2 linked regions of the Homo sapiens genome follow. The protein of the gene in region 1 interacts with the protein of each later gene in a pairwise test. Each region holds a gene or a part of one and is shown in the gene's direction. Other genes may lie near its edges.

What was found. The genes of interacting proteins can lie anywhere in the genome.
Region 2: the proteins of NAMPT (region 1) and ADORA2A interact in a two-hybrid assay, tested with the Homo sapiens proteins (one study listed by BioGRID and IntAct).

Annotation. Positions count from the first base shown.
Region 1 is NC_000007.14:106,281,578-106,289,837, reverse strand, and holds the start of NAMPT (nicotinamide phosphoribosyltransferase precursor), read left to right. Parts: upstream 1-4,854; 5' UTR 4,855-4,953; coding exon 4,954-5,010; intron 5,011-8,260.
Region 2 is NC_000022.11:24,437,111-24,443,112, forward strand, and holds the end of ADORA2A (adenosine receptor A2a), read left to right. Parts: intron 1-1,166; exon of another isoform or gene 1,167-1,648; intron 1,649-2,183; exon of another isoform or gene 2,184-2,457; intron 2,458-3,472; coding exon 3,473-4,379; 3' UTR 4,380-5,247; downstream 5,248-6,002. UniProt on the Homo sapiens protein: Receptor for adenosine. The activity of this receptor is mediated by G proteins which activate adenylyl cyclase.

The DNA of each region.
Region 1 (8,260 bases):
TTAGTTCAGTTTTATTAAGATCTAATTTATATGCTATTCACCAACTTTAAGCTTAGAATTCAGTGAATTTTGACAAATGTATACAGTCGTATAACCACATATATCATTCTCATCACCCCAAGAAGTTTCCTCAGACCTGCTTGCAGTCATTCTGCTTCTCATAATCCCAGTCTCTGACAACCACTGATCTGCTCTCTTTCATTATAACTTTGCCCTTTCCAGAATTTCAAATAAATGGAATCAGACATATAGCCTTTCATGTTCAGCTTCCTCAAGAAAACCAGTCTTATATGGAGGATGTGAAAACAGCATATAGGTTAGGGAAAGGTAAGAAAAAGAAATAGAAAGTTCACCAGTCTGAGTGCCCACCTCCTTCAGCTTCATCCTAAGTAATAATACCCCTCCCACAAAAAATCAGGTTTTATGTGCTAGTTACATTTTTAAATACTCATTAGAGGCCAAAGGCAGTGGCTTATGCCTGTAATCCTAGCATTTTGGGAGGCCAAGGTGGGCAGATCACTTGAGGTCAAGAGTTCAAGACCAGCCTGGCCAGCATGGTGAAACCCCTTCTCTACTAAAAATATAAAAGTTAGCCAAGCATAGTGGTACATGCCTGTAGTCCCAGCTACTCAAGAGACTGAGGCACGAGAATCACTTGAACCTGAGAAGTAGAGGTTGCAGTGAGCTGAGATCGGACCACAGCACTCCAGCCTGGGTGATAGAGCGAGACTCCATCTCAAAAAACAAACAAAACAAAACTCATTTAAGATAAGTACATAATTATTAAAGACAAAAACATGTATCTTAGTACCATTGATAGTTATTTCATGTACATCAATGATAAGCAGACCTCACTTAGGAAAACACTGATTTCAAAGCTCTTGACATTCCTATATACTTCAAACGGTCTTATTCTCTCAGTCATTGATATGGGCTAGCAACTCTTAAATTTGGGCCATTAGCAAAATTTGTAAGTAATGATGACATTGGAATCCCCACATGTGGCATCATAATGTGCATGTTTACCTTACTTTTAAAGGTGAATTTAAACCTTTTATTTTTGTTTATCTTTATTTCCCATTGAATTTGGTTGGAATTAGAAAAATGTATGCTTGAATATAATGGAAAACAAAAACACAACTAATAGAGACGGGAAAATCGAGACTTGCCATGCAGCAAACATAGATTGCGATAGACGTCCTGTGTGAAATTTGAAGACAGTTTCAAGTCAGATAGATGATCGACTCAGCATTGCCGGTTAGGAGAGTGCAGCACAGTCAGACCACAAAGACACCATAGAAAGGGCATAATTACATTTTGCAATGGAATGTCTGTGGATAGTCTATATATGTGCACTCATTCTTACTGTGTGTGGATGACAGTTGCTCTATCATTTTTGTACATTTAGACGAGGACTCCATAGTTTCCTGTGCCTCTCTTTGTGTGATTGTACAGGCTTAGCCGACTGAGTCATTACAGAGTGTAACACTGATAAATCATTGAATCTGTGAAGACCGTGTCTTTCTGTGGATGAGGCCTTTCCCTAGGAAATTAAAACTCTGGGAGGTTCCCAAAGGGCCTTGGAAGTTTGAATAAGAAAAAAAGTCCAAGTTTAATTTTTAAAAGCTCTCTTTTTCACATTTGTCTTTGTGACAACTGTTGCTAATTGGCGAGTCTAGAGGAGATTATAAAGGGAGATGGATAAGACCATCGTCAGGGGTTGCAGGTAGGTGAGTTCCATACCTACTTCACCAGTGTTTTTTACTGAGGTCAAATCAGGTCAGATTGGAGTATCTGAGGCAACTTTGAAATATAAAGGTGCACCCGAGGCTGTCTGCAAGGGTGTGTGGCAACAGGAGTGGCACAGATACACTCACTTTGCCTGAACAAATATATGAGCCCTAGGTCTTTCATAGCACTCTGAGGGAGGGAGACAAGGAGCTGCATGCCCAATTGGCAGTGCCTGATTGCTATTTGGTAGGATGGTATAATAATCCAGGGCTTTGAATCAAGTGAGGGGGCCCATTTGAGTCTATGTGTTATTATTTGTCATGTTGTTGTGACCTATGAAAAACAGTTTCTCAGGTCCTCTACATGCTACAACCTCCCCGGGCTCAGGCAATCCTCCCACGTCAGTCTCCTTTCAGAGAAGCTGGGACTACAGGCACATGCCACCACGTCCAGCTAATTTTTGTATTTTTTGTAGAGATGGGTTTTCACCATGTTGCCCAGGCTGGTCTCAAAATCCTGGGCTCAAGTGATCAGCCCGCCTCAGCCTCCCAAAGTGCTGGGATTACAGGTGTGAGCCACCACGTCCAACCTTAATGCTAGCTGTTAAACTGTCTTTCAGGGGAGGCCATTTTAAAATGAAATCTTGGCTCTGTTTTCAGTGATAATTTCATAGTTCTAAACCCCAATTAATTCTGAATTGCTCCAGCTTAAGCATGTAGTTACATAGAGAATGTGCCTATTTCTATCTCAGGCAAATGGTGATTGTCCTATTGGTAACATGACTTCATTGTCATTTTTTTTCTCTGGAGACTACTGTGAGGATTCACATTACTAATACTTGTGCAGGCCTCACTCCTTAATTTAACAAGCAATGTCAATACAATATTTTTTCTTTGCACAGATATAAGACCTTTTTATTTTAAAACTGCAAATTCAACTCAAAGATTGCAAGATCAAATTTTGCATCTTAAAAAAATACTACCATAAACAAAGCCCACATTATAATCAGAATCCTACTTTCTTTTCTGCATAAAGCAGCATAGAACAACGGTCATTTATAGATACATGAATTCCAGGAAGCTAAACAAATAAGAATTTGTACTATAAGTAAAGTAGGTTATATAAATTTTAAATGAAGGAAAAAACACCAAATTAAGGACAAAAATTATCTTTTTCCTTCTTTGAATTGCACTCCTTGAAATAATATAAAAAAACTCCCAAAATCAAATATTAAAAAATAATTTGTTTAGGCCGGGCGCGGTGGCTCACGTCTGTAATCCCAGCACTTTGGGAGGCCGAGGCGGGAGGATCACGAGGTCAGGAGATCGAGACCATCCTGGCTAAGACGGTGAAACCCCATCTCTACTAAAAATACAAAAAATTAGCCGGGCGTGGTGGCGGGCGCCTGTAGTCCCAGCTGCTTGGGAGACTGAGGCAGGAGGATGGCGTGAACCAGGGAGGCGGAGCTTGCAGTGAGCCGAGATCCAGCCACTGCACTCCAGCCTGGGCGACAGAGCGAGACTCCGTCTCAAAATAGAAATAATAATTTGTTTAAATGCGTTTACAAATAATTTTCCCCGGTAAAACACAGGGAAGATCAACCAATAAATACATAAGCCCTCTTGTTTCAAACCTCGTTGCTGAAAATAATTGTAAGTGTACTAGTATTTACTACATTGGTGAGTGCCTGGTGATACCTTCCACTTCCATGATCTTTGCCCTGTATTGTATCTACGTGTAGATGAGGTGATTGTCAAAAATATATACTGACTTCAAGACATAGTGTTGACTGAGGTTGTCTTTATTAGAAGTCTCAGCCATGCCTCCAGTTTCGAGATGAATCTCAATTCACAAGTTCCACTATGAATCTCAATTCACAAGTTCCACTACCACCACCACCATCACTGCCCCCAGATAGAATGAGACTTCTAATAACTTGAAAGACAAGTCTATAAATATCCTGTAATCGTTTTCACTGTATCACTTTTTCCTGGCTACTTTTATCCGATAAAAACCTCAATTTATTTTTAAGCTATTAAACATGCGGACAAAGGGAATCTTAGTTTTATGCAAAAACGCAACCACGCATGAGAACTGCGCAAGTCTTTCTTGGAATGGTCTGTATTTGGGTGAAGTCATCAGACGTCATTACACTTCTTTATTTTGGGGTTGCCAACTCGTTTCCCAGGATTTAAAGACTATAACGATGATAAAAGTCAGTGTCGCACCCTGTCAAAGGCTTGGCCCGTTGCCTTTTCCTTCCCGGCAATACTCGGTTCAATTAGGTCTTGTCCCCTCATTATCTGTGAGGACTGAATTCCACCCCCGCTTTTCAACGCAGGCTCTTTGCTCGGGAAAAGTCAAACCATCTCTCAAAGGATCAAAGAGCTCAGCCATAGACAGAGCCGCCGGAGGAAAGCGGAGTCGCTGCATCAGATGAAAGGGGCCCCTCAGCCTCACTCCTCACCGCAGCTCCTGGGATCTTAAAGACAGGGTCAGGAGGATCAGGAGGGACAAGAGGGATGGAGGCGAAAGGCTGGATCCTTAATCCAGGCCGGAGACAAAGGTGAGTAACTGCGCGTGGTGGACGGGAAGATGGGCAGTAGGAGGCTCCTCGCCCCCTAGCCGGGTGGCGTGACTTCAGGAGGACCCAGAAAACCGGCCAGGACTGGGTAGGACGGAAGGTCCCAGGCGGGGCGGGCGAACCGGCTCCTCGTGGCACTGGCAAAGCTGGGAACGCCCCCTCCAGGCCCCGCCCTCCCGCGCCCGTGCCGGGAACTCGAACTTAGGTAAGCGCCCGGGTCACGCGCCGGGGCTGCCCCGCTGCCTCCAGCTTCCCAGAGCTGGCGTCTGGGAGGAAGAGCGCGTGCATCACGTCCTCCTCCCCGCCCCGCCTCCGCGCACTGCGCAGCGCGCTGCCGCGCCCCGCCCTTTCTCGGCCCCCGGAGGGTGACGGGGTGAAGGCGGGGGAACCGAGGTGGGGAGTCCGCCAGAGCTCCCAGACTGCGAGCACGCGAGCCGCCGCAGCCGTCACCCGCGCCGCGTCACGGCTCCCGGGCCCGCCCTCCTCTGACCCCTCCCCTCTCTCCGTTTCCCCCTCTCCCCCTCCTCCGCCGACCGAGCAGTGACTTAAGCAACGGAGCGCGGTGAAGCTCATTTTTCTCCTTCCTCGCAGCCGCGCCAGGGAGCTCGCGGCGCGCGGCCCCTGTCCTCCGGCCCGAGATGAATCCTGCGGCAGAAGCCGAGTTCAACATCCTCCTGGCCACCGACTCCTACAAGGTAAAGCTCGGGGCCCGGGCAGATGAGGAGGAGCGGGGCGCGCTGGGGACGAGCGCGCGGCAGGGGGGCGGGGGCGGCTGGGGCTGGGGTTGGGGCTGGGGCTGGGGCTAGGGTCGCGGCGCGGGGAGGCCCGGGGGAGGCGCGGGCGGCGGCGGCTGGGGCAGGTGAGGAGGCGCCGCAGTGGGCAGGAGGTGGCTTGAGGAGGATGGAGGGCTGGGCGGTGGAGGCGGGGCCTGGGGGCGCGCGGCGGCGGCGGCGCGGCGGGGGGCTGAGGCGGGCCCCAGCGGACTCCCGGGCGCCGGTGCTCGGGGCTCGGGGCTCGGGGCTTGGGCGTCGCCGGCGAGCGCATGCCCTTCCCTGAAGCGCGGCCTCTTGGCCTGGAGCTGGGACCAGTTAGGTAACGGCCCCGGGGACCCGCAGTGGAGAGTGAGCGGGGCTTTCCCCCGGGCCAGCCCGGCGCGCTCGCCCCTGGCTGGGCAGGTAAGTCTCCCGGGGCGCGAGGTGGGAGAAGTCCTGGCGCGGGCGCCGGAGCAGCCGCGGTCCTCTGCGGCTCCGGCGCGGAGGACACTCGCCTGGCCCCGGTAGCCGTAGTGGATTCCCCTGTCCCACTCCGCCGGGCTCCGTTTCAAACTCCTTGGCACCTAGTGATTGCTCGTGCTCCTTATCCCTGGGTGTAGAGGCCGCTCTGCTCTTATCTGCTTTAGGGTCATTACAGGATTTCTGTGAAAAGGAAAATGAAACACGAGGATTTAAAGGAACTGTAGTTTTAACCCTAGAGAACATGTGGAGAGGGAAATGGCACAGCGTTGCGTTCACATGCCCATTGAACACTTGTGTGGGTAGCTGCCACATTCAGTTGATATGAAGCACGCAGTAGTGAAGGGAAGAGGTAAAGTAAATTTTACTTGAGCAGCATAGTGGTTTGGAATACAGTGGTAAAACATAGTACTCTCATGTTTTTGTTTTGATTCTTTTTTTTTCCTTTGTTTTTAGCCCTCCTCCGATATTCCGAGAAAGTATTTTAGAGAATTCCATTTTACTTAAGTTTTGTCTGTTTTTTTCCAATCAGCTTAAAATGCTGTTTATGATATTTAGATAGGTTCTTGAAATCGAGCCAAGATCCATCAACAAGTTGTCTTTTAGATGCAAGTTTAAAGTATTGCAAAATCCGAACACTATCAAGTATGATTCTTGAATATTGTCAAGTATACGTGATAATACCTCAAGTATGGTCCTTTACTTGGTCCTAAAACCTCCTCTTGTGTTCTCTTGGTTCAATCATAGTGTTTTCAAAATTTTAAATAGTGATTTTAGAATAGCCTCATTGATAGTTTTGTAGAATTTTTTTCTTAACTAAATCTAAAATAACTGTCAGATTTTTTTTTTACATGTTAGCCAAATGTAAAGGGAGGTTGAATAGTCTAAATTTTAAAAACAGAAGAATGCAACTTCCTTTAGTTTGCAGTTCCTCTAACCATTATACATAAGGAATGTAAAATTACTTTAACATCAGTTTTCTGGGGTGCTTTTAGTTAGAATAGTGAATTATCTTAAAGGTTTCTAATCTAGTGAGCCATACTTAATTGCACTATTAGAATTTGCACCTATTTAATAAATTTTACTTCTGTCAACTTTCAAGTCAGACTGGTGTGTTTTATATCCTTTATAATATGAAACTTCAGAATATTTTCATCTTAGATTTTTCATTTTTTCCCCAAAAGTCACCTCTAGAGGGTTCAATCAAGTCGATATGTTTTATACCAGTGGCTTACCGCAGTATGCTAAAATAGATTGTGTATTCCACAGTCACATTTAAGTCTTAGGTTTCATTTCCCTTATGTTTTTAGGGGTCCTTATAACCTATTTTACATTTTTGTCTTTTTATCTTAGGAAAAAGGACAAAAATGATAATCTTGAGGTTAGAAGTAATGAAACTTATTTAGAAATTACACGAGAATGTTACATATCCTTATCAGTGCTTACAAACTATTGGCCAAAGTTGGGAACTCTAGTAGTTTCAGATGTGTTGATGAAGAGAGCAAAATATTGTTGATTTCTTCTTTCTAAAACTGAAGAAAGAATAATTGATTGCCTAAGCACTACGAAAGTTATTTTGCAAGTAGATGGTATGGTAGCAAGCACATGACAATGGGAGTTTTGTTTTGTCTTGTATCCTGTCAAGAGAGTCCAGAACTATTTGGACCAAAGGAGCATTTGAAGTATATACATTCACTTCTGTAAACTCATACTTTATTGTATATAGTAAGGAATTAAGGACACTGACGACTGTGGTTCCTCTATTTTCATCGTGGTTCTTGTTAGAAGTAAGGACACCGTTTAAACCGCATTATCCATTAGTTATGAAATGTGCTGTCCGGTGTAGGTTGCTTCTCAAAGGGTCATCTGTAAGCTGGTTATCTAGAATTCAGCATATTTTTAACCATTCATTTAATAAATGTTGGTGACCTATTGGGTATTATAAAAGAAGACAAAGATAAGTAGTATTTTGAAATCCAGGAGGGACAGAAGTTGATTTTATAGAAGTTTCAAAGAGCTGTGAAATTTATATATGGTGATTAGGAATTCAAGGCAGCTTTTTTTCAAAAAAAAAGAAAATTTTGCTTCCTCTAATGGCCAAGTAACAAATTTTTGTTGCTTGTCTTTCACTGCTTCTGAGCGGATGCTTCGGTATTGTCACGGTGGCTCCTGAGTCAACCTGAGCCTCATGAGTGGGGTACTGTTGCAGCTTGTACCCCAGAGACTGCCTATGCATTCATAAAGATATATGTGACATTGTACATATATTTCAATTTTTCCATTATGTTTTGTTATATAGGAAAAACTTGAGCACCATAAATAAAATATATAAATCATGAATATACTTCATAGGGAGATTAATTTAGGTCATTAATAATTGAGCTGGTGTTCTCGTTGTGAGTTAATGAAATCTGGTTTAAAGGTGTGGCAAAAGAGATACAAGTCATTAGAAACTCCATGCAAGAGGTTTTAAGGGAAGAGGCAATATGATTATAGGTGATTTTGCAATTTCTCTCCTTCCCCAAATAACCCAAAATCCTTAAGTCATGTTTATGAGTGAGTATTGCTTCAAAGCCAAATAGCAGTGAATTATTTTTGGGGGCAACAGACAGATTTCCAGGGTTTAAGAAATCTTAAATAATACTGAAAAGAAGAATCGGTTATGGTTTTTGCTGTTTCTAGCACATTAGCTTTGAAGCAGCAGAAAGTCTTA
Region 2 (6,002 bases), on another chromosome or scaffold:
CCAGCTGGAATCATGGGGCATATTCTTGGACCATAGGGTGAGCCCCCAGTGTGGGTAATGGAGATCCCCAGAAAGGGGCAGCCTGCAAGCCGGGGGACACAGAGCTGCAGAGGGCACCTCCACAAAGGGTGGGCAGCAGCTCTGGGACCCACATTCTCTGACATGCCTGGGCACCCCAGAGTGGTGGTGTGTCACGCTAGACAGCCTTGGCATCCCTTCCAGCTGGATGGTCAATGTTTGGGGTCTAAGACGGCAAGATGTGAGTGTGTTGGTCACAGATGCAGCCCAGGATATGCTGCTGGGCCTGGCTGAGGCTCAGCTGTGATTCCATTTGGGCCCTGATGCTGTCCCCACCCCGTGGGCACCAGGGTCCAGGGCTCTCAGCCTATGGAGATTTCTTTTGAATAAACTTAGTCTATTTGCAATTTAAGAAAAAAAAAAGTCATGTTTTGCCCACTCTAAAACATTAAAAAGGAACAAAAGAGTATAGTATAGTAGAAAGTTGTCCTCCATACCCCCTGTCCCCCACCCTCAGTTCCCTGCCTGCAAGGCCATGTTAAGAATCCTTCCAGAGATATTCTTTGCATATATAAGCAAGTGCTATTAATGTATGTTTTGTTTCTGTCCCCACACGGGACTTTCTTTGCAGAGTACGGTGGAAGACTCCCCTTGTGGGTTCCCTTTTCTGTACAAGTCAACAATTGGACAGACCAGGGATTTCCATACTGTGTTCCCAGAAGCCTTCGGGTTGGCTCTGGTGTCCCCACCAATTCACTGATTCAATAAACATTTAATAAGCCCCTTCCCTTCCCCAGCAGCTTCACCTCTGTGACTGCCTGGGAATGTGGGCGACAAGGTTTGCTGCTGAGAACAGTTTGAAAACCAGCAAAGCAGGTGGCCCAGGGCCCAGGCAGCTCTGCAACACCCCTGTGGCTGCTTGGCTCTGCTCTGTTGCCTCAAATGACAGGAAACTCACTATTGCCTGAGGCAGGCCATCTCTCCTGTGAACAGCTCAGCTGAAAAACTCTTAACCTACCCTGAGTTACAATCTGCCTCCCTATAATTTCCACCCACTGATTCTCCATTCTGCCCTTAGAGGGCAGAGTGCTGACAGGTCCACGACTTGGTCCCATTTTACAAATGAAGAAACTGAGGCTCAGAGAGACAAAGTTTTAAAACATTCCTGTTAACAGGGCCAGAACCCAGGAAGGGATATGCTTTTCTCAGGAATAATGTCAAAATTAATATAGCTTCCCAGTCAATGAGGACTATATAAATTACTATTTGCAAAGCACTAAGAACAGTGTCCGGCACAGAGTCAGTGCTATGTAATGTAGATGTGAGAATGAGAGAGCCTGAGATTTTATGTTTGCGAGTCCCACAGGAGGCAGGGCAATGCCAACTCCCTGTTGCTTGGAAGCAATGGGCAAGTCTATGACCCTCCTGTTGAGGCCCTGTTACAGGTAACCAAGCCCCCACGGAATGGAGCTGAGGAGCTCCTGAGAATGGGCTTGTCCGGTTACTGTTTGGATTCAGAACTGACCTAAGAGATTCAGAACAGACAGACTCGCCTTGGCCTGAGTTGCCTCTGGGCTCTTGGAATGTCCACAGCAAGTCCATTCCTCTCCTTGGGCCTCAATTTACCCACCTGTAAAACAAGAGGATTGGACCACATAAGAGATCGGAAGCCACCAGGGTTTCTCTTTTTCTCTTTTATTTGAATTAGTTGACAAAACTTAAATCTTGGGAGATTTTACCCAGAAAATCATCTCCCCAGCCCCACCTGAGATCTGGTAATAGCAGGCGTACGTTTTGCATGGCGCTGAAGACCAGGTAAACGCCCCACCAGCTGCCTCCTGTGTGTGCTACCTATAGGCGCCTGTTTGCTACCCGTGAATGAGATGGTTTCTGTGGATGTTCCCAGCTCCGCAGTTAAGTAGAGCACATCCTTCCCCTTGCACCTTTTTTTTTTTTTTTTTTTTTTTTTTTTTGGAGACTGAGTCTTGCTCTGTCTCCCAGGCTGGAGTGCAGTGGCGCGATCTTGGCTCACTGCAAGCTCTGCCTCCTGGGTTCACACCATTCTCCTGCCTGTCTCCCAAGTAGCTGGGATTACAGGCCCCCGCCACCACGGCCGGCTAGTTTTTTTTATTTTTAGTAGAGACAAGGTTTCTCCATCTCCTGACCTCGTGATCCGCCTGCCTCGGCCTCCCAAAGTGCTGGGATTACAGGTGTGAGCCACTGCGCCCGGCCTCCTTGCACCTTCTGAGTGTCCCTGTCTCGGAGCTGGCAATGCAGAGATGGATGTAGGAAAGCCCTGCCCCCGAGGGGCCCAGATGTGGTGGGGATCTGCTGCACTTCGGTAGGAAACTTCTTTGAGATCTCTATCCTGGACTTGAAGGATGGGTAGGGTTTCTGCCAGGTAGAGGGGAGTGTAGTCTGGTCTTGCCAGAATCAAAACTGTTAAACAGAAGTCATCCCTCAGTGATCATCAAGGTTGCCTTCCTAAATTAGGGAGACTTTTTTTTTTTATTGTCCATTCTTTCATGAAATCTAGGCCACCTTTCCTACAGGGCTGAGGTCTGCTTACTGGCTGGCAGATCCAGCCATTTCCCGAGTATGAGACTGGGAGTCGGTAGGCTTGGATTTCTGTCTGGCTCTCACTCAGGAAGACTGAGTGATTTCGGGCAGATTACTGTCCCCCTGGACCTCAGTATTTCCTTGCAAATGTTAAGATGGCCATGTAAATGTTAACAAGTAATTCTCTCATTTCTCTCCAGAGGGCTGTGGGTGGGTTTGGAGGGGAGAAATGGCATCTCCTTTGGCCTGGGACCTCCTCCCCTCTTTTACCCTCCATGCTGCCTCTCCTCAAGGGCTTCTGGAGTCCCCAAGTCAAATGGCAAATGGGGAAGAGAAGACAGGGTATGGAGTACAAGAGGCCTAGATCCTCTATAGGTCTGATCTGGCTGGTGCTGCCCCTAGCCAGTAAAGCCACCCTCCAGACCCCTTCAAGCCTGTTGTAGCCTTAACCAAGATCAACCAACATGGAGGTGACTGATCTTGGTTAAGGCTGCGACCAACATGGAGGTAATTGATCTTGGTTAAGGCTACGACACGTTTCCCTTTAGAGAAAAATCATGTTTTCCCCCTCAAAAAATCATGCGTTAATTTCCTCCAACCAAACTAAGTCCCAGGACTACTCCGAAAACTACTCAATGACCATCTGGGCATTTGTACATGGGTTTCCATTTCTTGGATGCCTGCTCTCCTGTTACCTCCCAGAAGCCTGTGAAAAAGGCAAGGCATATTACTTCCACTTAACGGAAGAGGATGCTGGGGCGAGGTGGCAGGAAATGACTGGTCCAAGACCTTACAGTCAGGAAATGTGGAAACGGGTGCTGCTCTGGGGTTCTGAACTCTTGGCCCTGCTTAACCCTGGCTTCTCAGATCTCTGATGCTGGTCTCTTCTCCCCAGGTACAATGGCTTGGTGACCGGCACGAGGGCTAAGGGCATCATTGCCATCTGCTGGGTGCTGTCGTTTGCCATCGGCCTGACTCCCATGCTAGGTTGGAACAACTGCGGTCAGCCAAAGGAGGGCAAGAACCACTCCCAGGGCTGCGGGGAGGGCCAAGTGGCCTGTCTCTTTGAGGATGTGGTCCCCATGAACTACATGGTGTACTTCAACTTCTTTGCCTGTGTGCTGGTGCCCCTGCTGCTCATGCTGGGTGTCTATTTGCGGATCTTCCTGGCGGCGCGACGACAGCTGAAGCAGATGGAGAGCCAGCCTCTGCCGGGGGAGCGGGCACGGTCCACACTGCAGAAGGAGGTCCATGCTGCCAAGTCACTGGCCATCATTGTGGGGCTCTTTGCCCTCTGCTGGCTGCCCCTACACATCATCAACTGCTTCACTTTCTTCTGCCCCGACTGCAGCCACGCCCCTCTCTGGCTCATGTACCTGGCCATCGTCCTCTCCCACACCAATTCGGTTGTGAATCCCTTCATCTACGCCTACCGTATCCGCGAGTTCCGCCAGACCTTCCGCAAGATCATTCGCAGCCACGTCCTGAGGCAGCAAGAACCTTTCAAGGCAGCTGGCACCAGTGCCCGGGTCTTGGCAGCTCATGGCAGTGACGGAGAGCAGGTCAGCCTCCGTCTCAACGGCCACCCGCCAGGAGTGTGGGCCAACGGCAGTGCTCCCCACCCTGAGCGGAGGCCCAATGGCTATGCCCTGGGGCTGGTGAGTGGAGGGAGTGCCCAAGAGTCCCAGGGGAACACGGGCCTCCCAGACGTGGAGCTCCTTAGCCATGAGCTCAAGGGAGTGTGCCCAGAGCCCCCTGGCCTAGATGACCCCCTGGCCCAGGATGGAGCAGGAGTGTCCTGATGATTCATGGAGTTTGCCCCTTCCTAAGGGAAGGAGATCTTTATCTTTCTGGTTGGCTTGACCAGTCACGTTGGGAGAAGAGAGAGAGTGCCAGGAGACCCTGAGGGCAGCCGGTTCCTACTTTGGACTGAGAGAAGGGAGCCCCAGGCTGGAGCAGCATGAGGCCCAGCAAGAAGGGCTTGGGTTCTGAGGAAGCAGATGTTTCATGCTGTGAGGCCTTGCACCAGGTGGGGGCCACAGCACCAGCAGCATCTTTGCTGGGCAGGGCCCAGCCCTCCACTGCAGAAGCATCTGGAAGCACCACCTTGTCTCCACAGAGCAGCTTGGGCACAGCAGACTGGCCTGGCCCTGAGACTGGGGAGTGGCTCCAACAGCCTCCTGCCACCCACACACCACTCTCCCTAGACTCTCCTAGGGTTCAGGAGCTGCTGGGCCCAGAGGTGACATTTGACTTTTTTCCAGGAAAAATGTAAGTGTGAGGAAACCCTTTTTATTTTATTACCTTTCACTCTCTGGCTGCTGGGTCTGCCGTCGGTCCTGCTGCTAACCTGGCACCAGAGCCTCTGCCCGGGGAGCCTCAGGCAGTCCTCTCCTGCTGTCACAGCTGCCATCCACTTCTCAGTCCCAGGGCCATCTCTTGGAGTGACAAAGCTGGGATCAAGGACAGGGAGTTGTAACAGAGCAGTGCCAGAGCATGGGCCCAGGTCCCAGGGGAGAGGTTGGGGCTGGCAGGCCACTGGCATGTGCTGAGTAGCGCAGAGCTACCCAGTGAGAGGCCTTGTCTAACTGCCTTTCCTTCTAAAGGGAATGTTTTTTTCTGAGATAAAATAAAAACGAGCCACATCGTGTTTTAAGCTTGTCCAAATGAGAATGGCGTCTGAGTTCGTTTCCTACTCCATAGCTAGGCCTGTGCACACATACAGGCATGTGTTGTGTATGAGAGAGTGTGTGCGTATGTGCAGACACCCTGCCTGCCCCGGGGGCCCTCCCCAGGGTCCTGTCCTCGAGGGGACAGGCTGCCTGGCTGCACCACAATCCAACCTGCATTTCTATGAGGGCCCACAGGGGCTATGGGAGAAGGGGCTTTCCCCAGCAACTCCCCCCCTCCTTATCTTCCTACATCTTTAAGGGAAGATCTCTTTGTATGTTACCTTCTCAGAACTGTGACCCGCCACCTGCCCTGCTGCACCCTTTAGCAGAGGTCACAGAGGTATCCGCAAACAGATCTGGGCAGGGGCTACACGGCCTTCCCCTAGAATCCCCCTCCTTCTGTTCTTAACAAAAGAAACCCAGAAGGAAGGGGTGTTTTTGCTCTGACCCCGGCCTTAGGGGCCTCCTGCCTGAGGAGGTGGTGCCATCTTTCTGTGATGGCGAAGTTTGAGGCCTGGAAGGCAGTTAGCAACCTGCCCCTGCCTGAGGTTGGTGGAGAGCTGTGATTGTCCCGGTTTGGTCTCACTCACTCTGGGACTCCCGGAAGGAGTGTAAGAATGTCAAGGGTAATCCTCACACAGCCCTGTGAGCCCTGTTTTACAGATGATTAACAAGCCCAGAGAGGTTACATGATTGCTCCAGGTCACACAGCTAGTAAGTGGCAGAAGTGAACTTAAAACTCAGGTCTGTCTG